Regions from separate parts of the Homo sapiens genome. Here region 2 is linked to region 1. The links come from fine-mapping of genetic effects on gene expression. A gene starts in region 1. The other region holds a variant in brackets. All regions are shown on one strand. Distances are between the middles of the regions. Region 1 holds the start of BEX3 (brain expressed X-linked 3). Region 2 overlaps LL0XNC01-250H12.3 (a long non-coding RNA gene).

Region 1 (3,010 bases):
GGAGACGGAGTCTCGCTCTGCCGCCTAGACTGAAGTGCAGTGGTGCGACGCGGCTCACTGCAACCTCTGCCTCCCGGGTTCAACGATTCTCCTGCCTCAGCCTCCCGAGTAGCTGGGACTACAGGCACGTGCCACCACGCCTGGCTAATTTTTTTGTATTTTTAGTAGAGACGGAGTTTCACCGTATTAGCCAGGATGGTCTCGATCTCCTGACCTCGTGATCCGCCCGCCTCGGCCTCCCAAAGTGCTGGGATTACAGGCGTGAGCCACCATGCCCGGCCAAAAATAAAATTTTAAACGAGCTAGTATGTATCAAAAGTAATGGCTTGATGTTGTGTGGAGCCCAGAAAAAATATTTTGTGTGGTACAGGTCAACATAAACAATGAGAGATTTCATTGTGCAGGATAAAGCATTTCCTTTTTTTTTTTTTTTTTTTTTTTTTTTTTTGACAGGGTCTTGCTCTGTCGCCCAGGCTGGAGTGCAGTGGTGCGATCCCGGCTCACTGCAACCTCCGCCTCCCAGGTTCAAGCGATTCTCCTGCCTCAGCCCCCCGAGTAGCTGGGATTACAGGCGCACGCCACCACGCCCAGCTAATTTTTGTATTTTTAGTAGAGATGGGGTCTCACCATGTTGGCCAGGCTGGTCTCACACTACTGGCCTCAAGTGATCCACCCGCCTCGGCCTCCCAAAGTGCTGGGATTACAGGTACGCCACCGCGCCCAACCAGCATTTCTTTCAAAATTAAAAACTTATAATTTATAATTTTCTGAAGCATGCAGATTTTTTAAGGAAATAAAAAGAAATATATACAGTCCACTCCACTTCCTTGCCCCGCTTTCTGACAAATGCCCTCCTGCCTCCCCACCTTAGCCCTCACTCTAAATTTTCTAGAAGGGTAGGAATTCAGGGGCTACGTGGGCATTGATGGCTGTGCACACGCAAGGGGTAGAAGTGGGAGTGCAGCGCAAAGCATGTTGCCAGGTAGAAAAGGAGAGAAAGCAGAAAAGGCCAAAGCCAAGGCCTGAAGTGAGAGGGGGCAGTGGTGGAGGATGATGCAGACCCTCCCTGGTAACCAGAGGAGGGCAAACTCCAACCGCAGAGCAGTGATGCCACTTGTGGGCCCTCAGATTGGAGAGGACCGAGAAGAGTGACAGGGCTGTGCGCTCTGGGGCACCTCATGCAGACGGGAGTAGGGAGGCTGTTTTTTGCGCGTGCATATGGCGGTGGCGGGTGGGGGGAAGGGGGAGATCCTGCTGCACTGGCCGCCCAAGTTGGGGGGCGAGCTCGGTGGTGACGCGCGGCCCTCACGTGACCCAGAGCTGCAGAGCGACGCAGCCTTCGGTGCAGTCGTCACTCGCGTCTGGCTACCAGCTCCCCGCTGCCCTGAGCTCGGCGGGCTGGCATTCGGCCCGGGGAAAAGCGGAGCAGGTAAGGGCTCCGGGGCCCGTGAGCCCCGGCCATGCCAGCAGCGGCTGACCGACCTCGGCGACAGGCGCAGAACAGCGCAGGGGGTCCCCGCCAGCTTTCTCCACACCCCAACATGCTTGGGAACACAGAGGCCCCCAGGGATGGGGAAGCAGGGGCGGCTGGGTTTCCAGGGGCGGCAGAGCCACCAAGAGCGATGGAAACCCACCCCCGAGTCCCTGCAGGAAAACAGCGAACACCGCGGGGGGCTGGGCGTTCGAGGGTGGGGTGGGGGTGGGGGGCGGGAGACGCGGGGCGCTGGCAGCGAGGGGAGCCCGGGCTCGGAGCACGGAAAGGGCCGGGCGGCGGCGGGTCTTCGCTAGCGTTCCGCTGCAGCAGCCCCCACCCCCCACAACCCCCACCCCGGCTCGACTGCAGGTCTGCGAGGCTAAGTGTCTCCGCGGCGCACCTCGCGGCGAGAATCCGGAGGAGAAGGAGACTGCAAGGATAGGCCCAGGTCGGTGCGAGGGACGGTGGTGGGGCGGGGGTCGGAACGTAAGGAAAGCCCAGTCTGAGACCCCAACCCCCTCCACCCCATCCCCCACTCCTATACCGGTCCTCCATTTTGGTGCCTGCAAAGCTCTGGGAAAGAATCCCGGGAAACGAAAAATGGTGGGTTTGGGGGAAGGGAGGTAAGGGGAGAAAGCTGGAGGGAGGGGCTTTAATTGGAGGCCCCGTAGAGGACGCGCGGAACTTCTAAGGTGGGAAAAAACGAAATTAAAAAATCCTTTGATATCAGGGCTCTGAATCCTGCTGGTCAGAGCACCAAGCATTCAGTCTCTCTCCTTGCCTTTGTCTTACTTGTGTTCAAAGAAAAACAACCAGAAAAAAAAAATCTCATCATGGCAAATATTCACCAGGAAAACGAAGAGATGGAGCAGCCTATGCAGAATGGAGAGGAAGACCGCCCTTTGGGAGGAGGTGAAGGCCACCAGCCTGCAGGAAATCGACGGGGACAGGCTCGCCGACTTGCCCCTAATTTTCGATGGGCCATACCCAATAGGCAGATCAATGATGGGATGGGTGGAGATGGAGATGATATGGAAATATTCATGGAGGAGATGAGAGAAATCAGAAGAAAACTTAGGGAGCTGCAGTTGAGGAATTGTCTGCGTATCCTTATGGGGGAGCTCTCTAATCACCATGACCATCATGATGAATTTTGCCTTATGCCTTGACTCCTGCCATTTATCATGAGATTAATACTGTGATTCCCGCTGTTTTCTTTTTCCTTGCATTTTCCTAATATGCCTTTACTGATCCGTTTGCTGTGAACCCTATGTTATTTCCATGTGTCAAGTGGGTCTTGTGTTGCCAGCTTCTATTTGAAGATTGCCTTTGCACTCAGTGTAAGTTTCTGTCAGCAGTAGTTTCACCCATTTGCATGGAAAAATTTAAAGCTAATAAAGCAATTTAAAAAGCAATCTATACATTTATTGTCTCATTAAAAATGTATACTTACATATAACAGATGAACTAAAAAAAAATCTGAGATTAAATACACTAGAGTGTTAATTGGTGAACATTTCTGTGTGTTAACTAATC
Region 2 (2,755 bases), 83 kb after region 1:
GAATTTGATCCTGTCATTATGATGTTAGGTGGTTATTTTGCTCATTAGTTGATGCAGTTTCTTCCTAGCCTCAGTGGTCTTTACAATTTGGTATGTTTTTGCAGTGGCTGGTACCAGTTGTTCCTTTCCATGTTTAGTGCTTCCTTCAGGAGCTCTTTTAGGGCAGGCCTGGTGGTGACAAAATCTCTCAGCATTTGCTTGTCTGTAAAGTATTTTATTTCTCCTTCACTTATGAAGCTTAGTTTGGCTGGATATGAAATTCTGGCTTGAAAATTCTTTTCTTTGAGAATGTTGAATATTGGGCCCCACTCTCTTCTGGCTTGTAGAGTTTCTCCCGAGAGAGCAGCTGTTAGTCCGATGGGCTTTCCTTTGTGGGTAACCCGACCTTTCTCTCTGGTTGCCCTTAACATTTTTTCCTTCATTTCAACTTTGATGAATCTGACAATTATGTGTCTTGGAATTGCTCTTCTCGAGGAGTATCTTTGTGGTGTTCTCTGTATTTCCTGAATTTGAATGTTGGCCTGCCTTGCTAGATTGGGGAAGTTCTCCTGGATAATATCCTGCAGAGTGTTTTCCAACTTGGTTCCATTCTCCCCGTCACTTTCAGGTACATCAATTAGATGTAGATTTGGTATTTTCACATAGTCCCATATTTCTTGGAGGCTTTGTTCGTTTCTTTTTATTCTTTTTTCTCTAAACTTCTCTTCATGCTTCATTTCATTCATTTCGTCTTCCATCGCTGATACCCTTTCTTCCAGTTGATCGCATCCGTTACTGAGGCTTGTGCATTTGTCACGTAGTTCTCGTGCCTGGTTTTCAGCTCCATCAGGTCCTTTAAGGACTTCTCTGCATTGGTTATTCTAGTTAGCCATTCATCTAATCTTTTTTCAAGGTTTTTAACTTCTTTGCCATGGGTTCAAACTTCCTCCTTTAGCTTGGAGTAGTTTGATCTTCTGAAGACTTCCTCTCTCAACTCGTCAAAGTCATTCTCCATCCAGCTTTGTTCTGTTGCTGGTGAGGAGCTGTGTTCCTTTGGA[G/A]GAGGAGAGGCACTCTGATTTTTAGAGTTTCCGGTTTTTCTGCTCTGTATTTTCCCCATTTTTGTGGTTTTATCTACCTTTGGTCTTTGATGATGGTGATGTACAGATGGGTTTTTGGTGTGGATGTCCTTTCTGTTTGTTAGTTTTCCTTCTAACAGTCAGGACCCTCAGCTGCAGGTGTGTTGGAGTTTACTGGAGGTCCACTCCAGACCCTGTTTGCCTGGGTATCAGCAGCGGAGGCTGCAGAACAGTGGATATTGGTGAACAGCAAATGTTGCTGTCTGATCGTTCCTCTGGAAGTTTTGTCTCAGAGGAGTACCCGGCCGTGTGAGGTGTCAGTCTGCCCCTACTGGGGGCTGCCTCCCAGTTAGGCTACTCGGGAGTCAGGGACCCACTTGAGGAGGCAGTCTGTCCATTCTCAGATCTCAAGCTGCGTGCTGGGAGAACCACTACTCTCTTCAAAGCTGTCAGACAGGGACATTTAAGTCTGCAGAGGTTATTGCTGTCTTTTGTTTGTCTGCCCTGCCCCCAGAGGTGGAGCCTACAGAAGCAGGCAGGCCTGCTTGAGCTGTGGTGGGCTCCACCCAGTTCGAGCTTCCTGGCTGCTTTGTTTACCTACTCAAGCCTGAGCAATGGCGGGCGCCCCTCCCCCAGCCTCACTGCCACCTTGCAGTTTGATCTCAGACTGCTGTGCTAGCAATGAGGGAGGCTCCGTGGGCATAGGACCCTTCGAGCTAGGTGCGGGATATAATCTCCTGGTGTGCCGTTTGTTAAGCCCATTGGAAGAGCGCAGTATTAGGGTGGGAGTGACCCAATTTTCCAGGTGCCTTCTGTCACCCCTTTCTTTGACTAGGAAAGGGAATTCCCTGACCCCTTGAGCTTCCTGGGTGAGGCAATGCTTTGCTCTGCTTCAGCTCACGCACGGTGCACTGCACCCACTGTCTGGCACTCCCTAGTGAGATGAACCTGGTACCTCAGTTGGAAATGCAGAAATCACCCATCTGCTGCGTCGCTCACGCTGGGAGCTGTAGACTGGAACTGTTCCTATTCGGCCATCTTGGCTAAGACTTAAGTCTACATTTCTATTATCATTTCTTATTATGTGCAATCTTTTTTTTTTTTTTGAGATGGAGTCTTGCTTTGGTGCCCAGGCTGGAGTGCAATGATGCAATCTCGGCTCACTGCAACCTCTGCCTCCTGGGTTCAAGTGATTCTCCTGCCTCAGCCTTCCAAGTAGCTGGGACTATTATAGGCACATGCCACCATGCCTGGCTAATTTTTTTGTATTTTTAGTAGAGACAGGGTTTCACCATGTTAGCCAGGACGGTCTCAGTCTCCTGACCTTGTGATCTGCCCACCTTGGCCTCCCAAAGGGCTGGGATTACAGGCGTGAGCCACTGTGCCCAGCCTGTCATGTGCAATCTTGAGTATCACTGCTGTGTGGTGGTGGGGACAGTGAGATGAAGCTGAGGGAGAGGAAAAACCTCATTGCTTAGCTTCCAGTTAACTGAATGGGGTATAGGCAAAACATCATCACACGTACAACCTCCTTACCTGTCCTCTTTCTTTCCTCACTATTCCATGTGCTTTCTTATCTCCCTTCTAGTGTAACATCAGAGAAGGGGTGTACTCTGTGCCCTAGAACTAGGAGCTAACAGAGAAAAACCAAATGTGATGTGGAGTCTGCTAGACAGGCTACTGGAGCAAGAGTGAAGCGA

Evidence for each region. PIP is the estimated chance that this variant, and not a neighbour inherited with it, causes the effect.
Region 2: its variant is fine-mapped to the expression of BEX3 in whole blood (TOPMed, PIP 0.95).

What each region holds. Positions count from the first base shown.
Region 1 is chrX:103,375,185-103,378,194 of GRCh38, forward strand. BEX3 (brain expressed X-linked 3) reads left to right here and starts at 1,354. Exons shown (of 3, transcript NM_206917.3): 1 at 1,354-1,429; 2 at 1,844-1,922; 3 at 2,326-2,980. The coding sequence starts at 2,338. The coding sequence ends at 2,643.
Region 2 is chrX:103,458,572-103,461,326 of GRCh38, forward strand. It overlaps LL0XNC01-250H12.3 (a long non-coding RNA gene), which reads left to right. Exons shown (of 6, transcript NR_188440.1): 4 at 2,644-2,755. Among named protein-coding and RNA genes, the nearest start is that of LL0XNC01-250H12.3, 55 kb to the left of the region's middle. RefSeq lists an enhancer at 1,606-2,105. The variant G/A (reference allele first, on the strand shown) is at 1,038.